2 linked regions of the Homo sapiens genome follow. The protein of the gene in region 2 interacts with the protein of the main gene of each other region in a biochemical or structural test. Each region holds a gene or a part of one and is shown on either strand. Other genes may lie near its edges.

What was found. The genes of interacting proteins can lie anywhere in the genome.
Region 1: the proteins of CDK11B (region 2) and RANBP9 form a complex in vitro, tested with the Homo sapiens proteins (one study listed by BioGRID).

What each region holds. Positions count from the first base shown.
Region 1 is NC_000006.12:13,631,822-13,638,858, reverse strand, and holds part of RANBP9 (ran-binding protein 9), read left to right. Parts: intron 1-903; coding exon 904-1,051; intron 1,052-4,306; coding exon 4,307-4,428; intron 4,429-6,337; coding exon 6,338-6,489; intron 6,490-7,037. UniProt on the Homo sapiens protein: May act as scaffolding protein, and as adapter protein to couple membrane receptors to intracellular signaling pathways. Acts as a mediator of cell spreading and actin cytoskeleton rearrangement.
Region 2 is NC_000001.11:1,648,971-1,656,007, reverse strand, and holds part of CDK11B (cyclin-dependent kinase 11B), read left to right. Parts: intron 1-523; coding exon 524-639; intron 640-3,441; coding exon 3,442-3,569; intron 3,570-6,370; coding exon 6,371-6,509; intron 6,510-7,037. UniProt on the Homo sapiens protein: Plays multiple roles in cell cycle progression, cytokinesis and apoptosis. Involved in pre-mRNA splicing in a kinase activity-dependent manner. Isoform 7 may act as a negative regulator of normal cell cycle progression.

The sequences.
Region 1 (7,037 bases), on a different chromosome or scaffold from region 2:
CCCCCAACCTTTCCCAACCAAGCCTCTTGCAAAAGTCAGCTCTGCCTAGTTCGTTTTCTCCCATCCGTTTGTTGGCTCACCAGTCTTACTCTCTGTGACTTTGGGCTTTCTCTTAATTAAAATTCTCTCCTTTCTTGGCTTTTGTGACATCACTTCTACAGGTTTTTTTGGTTTTGTTTTTGTTTCTTTTTAAAGAGTTGGAGTCTCGCAATGTTTCTGATGCTGGTCTCAAACTCCTGGCCTCAAGCACTGCTCCTGCCTCAGCCTCCCAAAGTGCTGGGCTTACAGGTGTGAGCTACCGTGCCCAGCCACAGATTTATTTCTGATGCTTCTCAGTCTTCTGTTTGCCCATCTCTTTAATTCTGCATTTCCCAAGATGTTATCTTTGTACATTTAACATTCTTAAACAAGTCAGATAGTGTCTCCTTTCCTTTCATGAAGTAACACCATTGCTTTTTCTTATTTCAATTTATTCTCTTTTCTGCATTACTTCCTCTCAGTTTATTTACATCACCACTCTGTACAACAAGTGTGATTCCCATGTCTGTTCTTAGCCACTACTCCTCTTGAATATCATACAGTCACTTCAGGCTTGGATAAATTCTGAGCCTCAGTGTATTCATATGTAAAATGGGGATGATCATAATATTGCCATTTTAGGGGGATTTTGAGGATTAAATGAGATGTGTAATTAAGCCTTCAATAAATGTTAGATGAGGTAATAATTAAGATCTCACAATTAAGTATTCTTAGTATCCTTTCAAAGAAGTTACCTGTTTACATCATCCATTGACTCTCCTACGTTCTAGAAGTCTTAGTACAAAATCAACATGGAGACTTGTTTACAACCGTATTAATAAATTAGTGTTTGTTTCTGTTTCTACGTGGTATCTTTTTCTTCAGGTTTTGAAAGTTGTAGTAATGGTGTAATATCAAATAAAGCACATCAATCATATTGCCATAGTAATAAACACCAGTCATCCAACTTGAATGTACCAGAACTAAACAGTATAAATATGTCAAGATCACAGCAAGTTAATAACTTCACCAGGTAAGTAATTTCACTGACTTTTGCACTAATATAAGCAACCTAGTTATAGGTGTAATCGTTGTAATAATTTTGAAAGAACTTGAATTATGTGACCCACAGAGGGGCTCTGGGAGTTCTTAAGCCCCCAGAGAATAAAAGCGTAGGGAGTCAGTTCCCCAAAGCTTTTTAGTCTCCTATTATGCACATGAGCTCTTTCCTTAGTTTCTTCCTCTTCTCTACTACCTTCTTCCCTCTAGTAAAGTTATAAGGACAAATTCAGGGCTTCATGCATTGTCTTCCTGCCAGCCACAGAGCTATACAAATGATCACATAAATGCCATTTGTTATGTTTTCACAGTGGTTAAGACACAGTAGCATATTTAACCTTGAACGGTGACATAAGATAAATTTACAACTGATTTTTTCTCTGTGTGTGAGTTTTTTTTGGTGTAAATGTGTAGAATGTTTTCCAAGTTCAAAACTAACTTTACAAATAATCTTTTTTGAAAGCCTGCCTTTAAGTAGCTTGCATATAGCAGATGGTTAAGTCATTTAGTAAACATTGGTGTGAGGATGGTTTTGAGGATTTGTTGGGCACCAAACATTCTGCTAGGTAGGGTGTCTCACTTTGAAGAGGTTTGAAAGATGATATCTCAGTCAGTGTACTATGACCCTTGATATACTCAGGTTTAATATTTATGAAACCTAAAAGTTCATGAAGTGACATTATTTGAATTAAATACTACTGTGCAGTAGCAAATTATTGTGAATTCACCCTGCCCAAATCATCCAGGACTGGGTCAATTTAATATTGGTTTGGTCTATAACAAACCAGTTGGTTACATTGCATTTTCAGGAAATGGTCATCAGTGCCACATTTTCTTATTAAAGGAGAGAGAGCCTAACTTTTAGCATGGAATCTTAATGGAAATATGATTTTGCAGAAAGGATTGTATGTAAAAAAAAATCTGTATTTGAAAATTGGGAGATTAATCTCAATTTCTGGGTTGTCTGTCACACGTGACAAAAATTTACTGAAGTAATAGTGTGTGTGATTGATATAAGTTGTAATGGAGAACCACAAAAGTGTATGAGAAGAGCAGAAAAATCGTCTTTCACAGCAGAGGTGATATATTGGAAAATATAAAATCAAAATATTATAGTTTAAAAATAGATGGAAATGTAAAAAGTTAAGTACTTCATCATGCTTTATACTAAATGCATTGGTACTTTATCATTGATCAAGGCTCTTGCCAATGTTTGAGGGTAAGATTGCAGTCAGTTTGTGAGTTTTTCTCTTGAATACTATCCCTACAGCAGGAAGTTGCTAAACAGATCTATTATTACCTGAGTTCAGGGAAGCAAGCTTAACGGAAGGGTCTGATGACACAACATCCTCCTTTGTCTGCAGTATAAAAGGGAAAGAAAGTCAACTTTGAACTGCCTTAAGCTATAAGTTATTTTGTAGTTGGTAATGGCTTTCCTAACTGTGAAGTAGGCAAAGATGGTATTAACTATTTAAACCATTTTACAGATGTAGAGCGGGATATCAGAAAAGTAAATGACTTTTTTTTCTTAAGGTCAATTATTAGTAGCTAGTAAGTTGCAGAGCTGAGGCTGCGTTTCAGGATTTGACTTGCAAACTTGTGCTTTTTCCCTGATACCGCCCACCATCTGAAATGCTCTTCTTCCTACCCTCCCTCACCTCCAGTATAACTTCTGTCCAGGCTGAGAAAATTCAAGTTCAGATGTCAGTTCTTCCAGGATGTTTTCCTTGATTTACATCCCATCAAATATGTCATGTTTTGTGATTAACTTCCATCATAGTACTGATCATAATTACTCTGTAATATAATAACTTAATTAGCTTTTTATAGGTTGTTTGCTACAGGAAGGCAGAGGCTGTTTCATAATATCCTTAGCACCTAACAGGGATCATACCTCAGAGGCTCTTAAATGTGTGTTAAATGAACGAGTTCCTTCCAAATACTAAACTGAGTTATCAAAAAAAAAAAAAAAGTTTAGTATTTTTTAAAAAGCCACTGAAAGCTGTGATGGTAAGGATTTTCTTATTCTTAAAGTTTGGTTTTTCTTACCAATTTTCGAAGTTTGTTAAGATTATAAACAAGCTTTCCTGGTTGAGTAAGTCTGCTCTGGAGTCGTAGGGCCATATCCCCCTTTTCCCTAGATCTCTTGTTTTTTTTTTTTTTACCTTAACAATTTTACTAACAGGAGTGTATGCATGCACACACACACCCCCAAGGTGTTAGAATTTGTTACCTCTGGTGGTATTACGCATAGTGGTTTTTGCTCATCTGTGTTTTTTTTTCTACAATTGAATATATATTGCTTTTGTAATGAGAAATGTCATTTTTATCTAAGCATTACCTAAAATTTCATCGAGTGTTTACTTCTAGATTGTATAATTATTACCTAGGCTTCCATAGGATAAATCCTAAAGATTAGATATTTATTGTTGCTTATAAGAGTGCGGATGGTTCTGAAGGACATACATTGACAGCTTAAATATGTGCAAATATAGTTATTGGCAGATAGATATTCATTGAGTGGAATGAGTGAAAACTGGAAACTATCCAGGACATCAGTTTAAAAGTTAAGATTCAGCAATACTTTAGCCAATAAGATAGCCTGTGAGTTCACTCTCTGTCGTGTGGTGAAAAGGGATGAGAGAATGAAGCTCAATCATTTTTTAAGTTATCAGTTACCCTTGAAAGAATGTATATTTTTAAGTAGTGAGGACAAATGCCAGAATGCTATTTAAAAACAGCCTAGGAGTGGATTGAGTATGAGGTCCGGAACGAGGTGAAGCGGGTTCCAGGAGTGAGATGTATTTGTTTTGAGAGTGAGGTTTTCCCCTTACATACTAGAAATCAGTGCTGGGGGTAGGGGGAGAGGGCTGGCTGGGGAGTTGGTGGGGCAGCAGTTGATTAACGAAGACGTACAGATCTGAATTTGAAAAATAATAGGATTGTGTGGAAGTATGATTTCTCCATATTGATGTAAAGTCATAAAACCACTACATTTTAGCATATGTACTTTTTTTCCTCCCTTACCTCCGGGGGTACAAATTTGTTAAAAGTCAGCGACATGTTTGGCTTTGAATACGTTCAAGATTTAACTAAATACCTTTTTTGCAGATTTCTGTTGCCTTATGAAATTAGTTTATTCGTAGGCTATGTAGTTCAGTAGTGATTTATTTTAAACTAAGCTGCAAGTATGATATTTCTAAAATTAGGTTTGTTTTTTCGTTTTCAGTAATGATGTAGACATGGAAACAGATCACTACTCCAATGGAGTTGGAGAAACTTCATCCAATGGTTTCCTAAATGGTAGCTCTAAACATGACCACGAAATGGAAGATTGTGACACCGAAATGGGTCTGCAGTGATATTTCTTACATTTTTAATAAAAAATGATGGCTACAAGGTTATGTTTTTACTTGTACTGATTCACAGCTGATGAGCATAAACCAGATTTAAAGATGTATGTGCTGTAGGACTTGACAGTAATGCATAGCACTTAAACTCTTGTTTGAGTGGGCTGCTAGAGAAAGTAGAGTTACCTTTCAGCTACAGGCAGTGTTTCTTGCTGAACTGCTTAGGCTCAGGTTTAGCGCTGTCACTAATGCAGCAGTACTGACTTACTGGTGTTGAGCCTCTAGGCTATTTTAGGTTGGAGATGATAGAACTTCTTATATTTATGTCAGTATAGTCAGTAAGGCCAAATGGTTAGATGATTTTACAAATTTCTAATCAGTATTTCTTAAATGAGTTTAACGTAAACGTGTGTGACTTTGCATAGTACTATCCCTGGTATATAGTAGGTGCTTAAGTATGACCTCCCTCACCAAAAAAAAAAACCCCACCACCAACAAAAAAATTATGTGGCTCCAAGACACATTAGCATGCATAATTTTATTTTGTAGACAACTTAAGTAGTAAATTGCCTGTCCCATCAGCAAACTATCCCATCAAATGGAGAGTGAAAATTTATTTGTTGGATTACATTTTTTCATTTATTTGTTGGAATTCCATGGCAATGTTAGATTTCTTATTATTTTGAGATTGAGTGGTATTACTAAAATTGTTTTTTAAAAAGAAATGCAGCTTTGTTTTACTCTTCAATATCAGCCACCTCAGTTTCTGAAGAGTAATTTAAGTACAGTGATAAAGAGCAGGAGTTCTAGAGCCAGATTACATAGATTTGATTTCTGCAAAACTGCCATTTACTAGCTGTGTGACCTTGGAAAAATTACTTAACTGCTCTGTGTCTCAGTTTCTTCATCTGTAAAATGGGTATAATAACGACCTCATAAGTTATTGTGAAAGTAAATGAATAATCCAAAAAGCTAATAGCACAAAGTGCTTGGGAAATATTAACCATCATCATCGTCATTACCTTATTTTTAATGACTTATAAGTAATTTATACAGTTAAATTATTTTATCAATCAAGATATATAAAACTATTTTCTTAGCTGGGCATGGTGGCTCACGCCTGTAATCCCAGCACTTTGGGAGGCCGAGGTGGGCGGATCACAAGGTCAGGAGTTTGAGACCAGCCTGACCAATATGGTGAAACCCCATTTCTACTAAAAAATACAAAAATTAGCCAGGCATGATGGCGCGTGCCTGTAATCCCAGCTACTCAGGAGGCTGAGGCAGGAGAATTGCTTGAACCTGGGAGGCAGAGGTTCCAGTGAGCTGGGATCACACCACTGCACTCCAGCTTGGGTGACAGAGTGTGAGACTCCATCCAAAAAAAAAAAAAATTATTTTTTCAAAGTGGTATTTTTCTAAAAGTAGTGCATTTAATCTTTTCAGTTAGTATAATATGCTGTCTTCTGTATTTTTATTGTAGTCATTTAGCTTTTCTTAGCTTTCAGGAGCATTTTATTACATCTCTACTACGTCAGTTAAGGCAGCCTGAGTGGCATTATTAACAGTTTTCCTTTTTTTTTTTTTTTTTTTAAATGTTGCTTAATGTAGTTTTAGGGAATTATACTTTTTCTAAAATTTTTTTCTGACATAAGTACCCTCTAACACTGAAAGGTTGTCCCCTCTCAACTGCATGCTGAATACTGGATCCTAGACTCTTGAGAGCTAAATAAAGTATATCTTTTAGCTGCAGTTTCATATTAAAAATGAATTTTTAACAATCTGCATATTTAGATGAAATATTAGGGAATAGTTACTAAATGTACAAAATGGTATAAGAAATGTATGTTCGTGTCCTCATTATACTCCATTCCATAAGGTAGTAAAATACTTGTCTGTTTTTCTTACAGAAGTTGATTCAAGTCAGTTGAGACGCCAGTTGTGTGGAGGAAGTCAGGCCGCCATAGAAAGAATGATCCACTTTGGACGAGAGCTGCAAGCAATGAGTGAACAGCTAAGGAGAGACTGTGGCAAGAACACTGCAAACAAAAAAATGTTGAAGGTGAATATATTTTTTCTTGAAAAATTATGAATATGTCAGAGGAACTAAAATGTAGTTTTGTGAAACACTGAGCAGTGTACCAGAAATTCTTGTTAGGGAACTGGGACCTGACCTTCCCCCTGGCTCCTTGCCCATCTGAGAGTGGAAATATTTGATGAAGTTAGGCAGTTCTGATCTACTGGAAAGAGCATTGGACTAAAGCAAAAAAAAAAAAAAAAAAAAAAAAAAAAAAAAAAAAAAAAAAAAAAAAAGGATTAAATCCCAGTGCTAGTGCTTATCAACATTGTGTGTCCTCGTTAACTTAGTTTCTTAGTTTTATTTTCTCAGCTGTAAAATCAGCAGTTACTAGGAGCAATGTGGGCGTGCAGATAAAACTATAGGTCTGAGATCTCATTTTAGTAAATGTTGTTCAGGTTTATAGCATTTTGGATGTATAACACATGGTTCTCATTTTGATGGGAATTAGTGAAGAATTGGGTCACTTTTCATGGCCAGAATAGTTAAAATACATTTTAAAGTCTCTTCTGGATTGTTGTCCATGAGCTGAT
Region 2 (7,037 bases):
CTAATGTCCCTTGTCATATATGCTATTTTTAAATTTCTCATCTCAGGTTTCAGATTACAGAGAGTTGTAATTTTAATGTGATAAGATTTGAATTAAAGTTTGTTTGTTTGTTTGTTTGTTTTCCCTGATACGGAGTCTAACTCTGTCGCCAGGCTGGAGTGCAGTGGTGTGATCTCGGGTCACTGCAATGTCCGCCTCCCGGGTTCAAGCAGTTCCGGTCACTACGCCCAGCTAATTTTTGTATTTTTAGTAGAGATGGGGTTTCACTGTGTTGTCCAGGGTGGTCTCGAGCTCCTGACCTCGTGATCCGCCTGCCTGGGCCTCCCAAAGTGCTGGGATTACAAGCGTGAGCCACCACACCCGGCCAAAAGTTCTTTATATTTTATAACACTGGCTCATTCAGAGTATATATGAAAGTTTGTTTTGGGATGTTGCCCAGGTTTGATTATCATTAAAAATACTTTTATCTATGAAGAAAAAAAAACTTATAAAGAAAATGATTAACTTTCTCTTTGCTTCTTAGTCTGATGACCGGGATTCCAAGCGGGATTCCCTTGAGGAGGGGGAGCTGAGAGATCACCGCATGGAGATCACAATAAGGAACTCCCCGTATAGAAGAGAAGACTCTATGGAAGACAGGTGAGCGGATGTACAGATGTGCAAGACCCAGCTGTACACAGCCCTGGCCTGGCCGGTCCTTCCTAGGGTCGCTGTGACAACTGTGTGCTGTTGTAACTATTAAGGTTTACTCTTTCCTAGAGTTACTGTGACATAGCGTAACTATTGAGGTTTTTATGTCACAGTTGTGACTGACTCTCAAGTGTTGTCTGTGGCCCTCCAGACCCTTGCCCCTTCTTTCTGTAAAGAACTTTGCCATGTGTTACACTGATTAATAAAATATACTATATAGGATTTTGCACAGGCCAGGTGTGGTGGCTCACACTTGTAATCTCAGCACTTTCGGAGGCCAAGGCGGGCTGATCAGCTGAGGTCAGGAGTTCGAGACCAGTCTAGCCAACATGGTGAAACCCCGTCTTAAAAGGAAAAAAAGGCCGGGCGCGGTGGCTCACGCCTGTAATCCCAGCACTTTGGGAGGCCGAGGTGGGCGGATCACAAGGTCAGAAGATCAAGACCATCCTGGCTAACACAGTGAAACCCCGTCTCTACTAAAAATACAGAAAATTAGCCGGGCGTGGTGGCAGGCGCCTTTAGTCCCAGCTACTCGGGAGGCTGAGGCAAGAGAATGGCGTGAACCCAGGAGGTGGAGCTTGCAGTGAGACAAGATCATGTCACTGCACCCCAGCCTGGGCGACAGAGCAAGACCCCGCCTCTAAAAAAAAAAAAAGGAAAAAAAAGATTTTGCACAAATAAAGTAGAATGCTGAAAGATACCTGAGGAGGGCCGCTGATGAGAAATGTTCATATTGGCCGGACGCGGCAGCTCACGCCTGTAATCCCAGCACTTTGGGAGGCCGAGGCAGGCAGATCACTTCAGCCCAGGAGTTCAAGACCAGCCTGGGCAACACAGGGAGACCTCGTCTCTACACAAAATAAAAAAAAGAAGATGAGAAAAACTAAATGAGTTTTCCTGCCATAGCAGGTGCCCCTCATGGTCATCATCAGGGTTTTCAGGGCCTAGCTTCTAAGCACCCCTGACAGAGCCTAGAATAGAGACAAGGAAATGGATGAGACTGGGGTAACAGAGCAAGACCCTGTGTGGAAAAAAAGGAAATGTTCTTGTTGAGACCTGTGTGTTCCGACGTTTCTTCCTGTGCCATGAACTGTTTCTCGTTTGTTTTCTTCTCATATCTAGCTCGTATACGTCATCAGGTATTAGTAATTAAAGGAAACACAGCCAGAAATTACGGTATAATGGTTTTCCTGAGAAGCTTAAGGTGTGAATTTTCCCAGAATTTTGGTGATACAGAAATCAGCTGAAGATACTGTTAAATGACGCTTTGAGATTATGAAGATTGTTTTGTTGTTGTTGTTGTTGCTTTGACACAGAGTCTTACCCTGTCGCCCAGGCTGGAGTGCACTGGCATGATCTCGGCTCACTGCCACCTCCAGCTCCCGGGTTCAAGTGAGTCTCCTGCCTCAGACTCCTGAGTAGCTGGGATTACAGGCATGCGCCACCACGCTCGGGTGTGTGTGTGTGTGTGTGTGTGTGTGTGTGTGTGTGTATTTTTAGTAGAGACGGATTTCACTGTGTGGTCACACTGGTCTTGAACTCCTAACCTCAGGTGATCTACTTGCCTCAGCCTCCCAAAGTGCTGGGATTACTGGCGTGAGCCACTGCACCCAGCCAAAATTGTAGGATCTTTTAACAGATTTATTGGGGAATAAATAACATAAAATGAGCTGCCCTTGTTTAAATATGATGTGAATGGCTGGGTGCAGTAGCTCGCGCCTGTAATCCCAACACTTTGAGAGACTGAGGCAGGTGGATCACCTGAGGTCAGGAGTTCAAGATCAGCCTGGCCAACATGGTGAAAGCCCGTCTCTACTACAAATACAAAAATTAGCCTGGCATGGTAGTGTACACCTGTAGTCACAGCTACTCAGGAGGCTGAGGCAGGAGAATTGCTTGAACCTGGGAGGCAAAGGTTGCAATGAGCCAAGATTGTGCCTCTGCACTCTAGGCTGGGGGAAAGAGCGAGATTCTATCTGAAAAAAATAAAAATAAAGCTGGGTGCGGTGGCTCACACCTGTAATCCCAGCACTTTGGGAGGCCGAGGTGGGTGGATCATGATGTCACAAGTTTGAGACCAGCCTGACCAATATGGTGAAACCCCGTCTCTACTAAAAATAAAAAAATTAGCCGGGTGTGGTGGCGCATGCCTGTAATCCCAGCTACTCCTTAGGCAGAGGCAGGAGAATTGCTTGAACCTGGGACTGGAAGGGGAGGTTGCAATGAGCCGAGATCGTACCACTGCATTCCAGCCTGGGCAACAGAGCGAGACTCCGTCTCAAAAAAATAAATACAGGCCGGGCGCAGTGGCTCACGCCTGTAATCCCAGCACTTTGGGAGACCGAGGTGGGCGGATCATGAGGTCAGGAGACCAAGACCATCCTGGCTAACATGGTAAAACCCCGTCTCTACTAAAAATACAAAAATTAGCCAGCGTGGCGGCGGGCGCCTGTAGTCCCAGCTACTCGGGAGGCTGAGGCAAGAGAATGGCATGAACCCGGAGGGTGGAGATTGCAGTGAGCCGAGATCGTGCCACTATAGCCCGGGCAACAGAGCGAGACTGTCTAAAAAAAAGAAAAAAAGAAAAAAAAGATGCCTAAAGTTGGAGAATTAATGTAATTTTTTAAATGATGTTTCAGCTTTGTTCCTGTCTGAATCATGCATTTTTCTGGGTTGAAGAAACCTTATAATAGCCTGATGCTTCTTTGCACTTTCTCAAGCATGATGCAGTGCTGTTGTGTTTTATTTCAGAGGAGAAGAAGATGATTCTTTGGCCATCAAACCACCCCAGCAAATGTCTCGGAAAGAAAAAGCTCATCACAGAAAAGATGAAAAGAGAAAAGAGAAACGTAGGCATCGTAGCCATTCAGCAGAAGGGGGTACAGAAGCATTTACTTTCTTTGACATCATGTTCAAGTGTGGTTTCTTTCCTGTTCCTACTCTTCTGCCTTCCCCAGAGCACCACTGAAAAACCAGAGAAAGCAAACTCTAGCTGAAAGCATACGTGTGTCACAGACCGTTCAGAATGGCTATAGAGAGAATACTCTAGCTAAAAGCATGCGTGCGTCACAGACCGAAAACCAGAGAGAGCAAACTCTAGCTGAAAGCATGCGTGTGTCACAGACCGAAAACCAGAAAGAGCAAACTCTAGCTGAAAGCGTGCGTGTGTCACAGACCATTCAGAATGGCTATAGAGAGAATAGCTGAAAGCATGCATGTGTCACAGACCGTTCAGAAGGGCTATGAGAGCAAACTAACTAAAAGCATGCGTGTGTCACAGACCAAAAACCAGAGAGAGCAAACTCTAGCTGAAAGCACGCGTGTGTCACAGACCATTCAGAAGGGCTATACAGAGCAAACTCTAGCTAAAAGCATGTGTGTGTCACAGACTAAAAACCAGAGAGAGCAAACTCTAGCTGAAAGCATGCATGTGTCACAGACCATTCAGAAGGGCTATACAGAGCAAACTCTAGCTAAAAGCATGCGTGTGTCACAGACCAAAAACCAGAGAGAGCAAACTCTAGCTGAAAGCGTGCGTGTGTTACAGACCATTCAGAAGGGCTATAGAGAGAATACTCTATCTGAAAGCATGCGTGTGTCACAGACCATTCAGAGGGGCTATAGAGAGCAAACTCCAGCTGAAAGCATGCGTGTGTCACAGACCGTTCAGAAGGGCTATACAGAGCAAACTCTAGCTAAAAGCATGCATGTGTCCCAGACCGAAAACCAGAGAGAGCAAACTCCAGCTGAAAGCATGCGTGTGTCACAGACCATTCAGAAGGGCTATAGAGAGAGTACTCTAGCTGAAAGCGTGCATGTGTCACAGACCATTCAGAGGGGCTATAGAGTACTCTAGCTGAAAGCATGCGTGTGTCACAGACCGTTCAGAGGGGCTACAGAGAGCAAACTCCAGCTGAAAGCATGCGTGTATCACAGACCGAAAACCAGAGAGAGCAAACTCTAGCTGAAAGCGTGCGTGTGTCACAGACCATTCAGAATGGCTAGTCCATTTTTCCTCTGGGGTTTTCTCTCCCCCATTATATTGTTTGGAAGCAGTTTGTTTACATTTAAAATGACCTGAATTCAACAAGTATAGGAGAAAAACACACCCCAAAATGGGTATTTGCTCAAGTCCAAAGAATGGGTTTGGCTTGAGCAGTTTGATCTCGTACCAACATCAGGAGGTTCTTACGGGTGTTAGGAAAATTGGACCTGGAGCCCGATTGAAATGTCATGATTATAAATACACTTGATTAATTAATGTGGCTTCATTGCACAGTGGAGAAGCCCACTGATAGCAAAGCTTTGTTCTGTAGTCTTTGTGAAGAGTGATTTTTGTATTATAAAACTGATAATTATAGTTTATTCAGTATGGAAAAGTTTTAAAAGACGAATATTACAATTCTGCTCTTCTGTGATAGCAGAATTGTTTTTCTTTTTTCTTCTTTCTTCATAATTAGACGCTTACTGCAGATAGTTTTTTATTTTCAAAGTTTTTTATTTAACATAAAATCATGATTATTCGGCTGGGTGCAGTGGCCCAGGCCTGTAATCCCAGCACTTTGGAGGATCAATTGAGTCCGGGAGTTCAAGACCAGCCTGGCCAATATAGCGAGACCCTGTCTCTTTAAAAAAAAAAAAAAAAAAAAAAAAGGCCGGGCGCGGTGGCTCACAACTGTAATCCCCACACTTTGGGAGGCCGAGGCCGGCAGATCACGAGGTCAGAACATCAAGACCATCCTGGCTAACATGGTGGAACCCCGTCTCTACTAAAAAGACAAAAAATTAGCCGGGCGTGGTGGCAGGCGCCTGTAGTACCAGCTACTCGGGAGGCTGAGGCAGGAGAATGGTGTGAACACGGGAGGCGGAGCTTGCAGTGAGCCGAGATTGCGCCACTGCACTCCAGCCTGGGCGACAGAGCAAGACTCCATCTCCAAAAAAAAAAAAGAAAAAAAAGAAAAATTAGGATTACTTAACGTTAACATCATTATTTAAATATTTATTTAAATATTTACTGTTCTTGATTTAATTTCTTTTTTTTTTTTTTTTGGGACGGAGTCTTGCTTGTCACCCAGGCTGGAGTACAGTGGCGCAATCTCAGCTCACTGCAAATTCCATCTCCTGGGTTCACGCTATTCTCCCGCCTCAGCCTCCCGAGTAGCTGGGACTACAGGTGCCCGCCACCACACCCAGCTAATTTTTTGTATTTTTAGTAGAGATGGGGTTTCACCGTGTTAGCCAGGATGGTCCCGATCTGACCTTGTGATCCGCCCACCTCGGCCTCCCAGAGTGCTGGAATTACAGGCGTGAGCCACCGCGCCCGGTCTTAATTTCAGTTTCACGTGGGTTTTTTTTTTTTTTTTGCCCAGGCTGTAGTGCAGTGGCGTGATCTCGGCTCACTGCAACCTCCGCCTCCCGGGTTCAAGCAATTCTTCTGCCTCAGCCTCGCTTAGTAGCTGGGATTACAGGTGCCTGCCACCACGCCCAGCTAATTTTTGTATTTTTAGTAGAGACGGGGTTTCACCATGTTGGCCAGGATGGCCTTGAACTCCTGACCTCAGGTGATCCGCCCGCCTCAGCCTCCCAAAGTGCTAGGATTACAGGCATAAGCCTCCGTGCCCGGCTTCATGTGAAATTTTTGAAGTGAGGTTTCTTTGCATGACACTTTATTTCTCATTAGGGAAGCATGCTAGAGTGAAAGAAAAAGAAAGAGAGCACGAACGTCGGAAACGGCATCGAGAAGAACAGGATAAAGCTCGCCGGGAATGGGAAAGACAGAAGAGAAGGGAGATGGCAAGGGAGCATTCCAGGAGAGAAAGGTGAGTCGGCTGGGTCAGTTGAGGACTTTATAAAAGGGCTGTGGTAGTGTGTCCCATCCTAGAAATGAAGAAGAATTTGGCAATAGAAGTCACATCTGAGCCAGGTGTGGTGGCTCACGCCTGTAATCCCAGCACTTTGGGAGGCCGAGGTGGGCGGATCATGAGGTGAGGAGATGGAGACCATCCTGGCTGACATGGTGAAACCCCGTCTCTACTAAAAAAATACAAAAAATTAGCTGGGCATGGTGGCGGGCACCTGTAGTCCCAGCTACTTGGGAGGCTGAGGCAGGAGAATGGCGTGAACCCGGAAGGTGGAGCTTGCATTGAGCTGAGATCCCGCCACTGCACTCCAGCCTGGGCGACAGAGCGAGACTCCGTCTCAAAAAAAAAAGAAGAAGTCACATTTGGTGCAGAAGTGGTAGACATGGAAACAGCACAGTGAACGCTGGACGAGGCTGACCAAGAGAACTGTCCTGAGGGAGTGAGTTTTCACTGCATCTGGAAGTAAGAACGGGTGTGATTTGATTG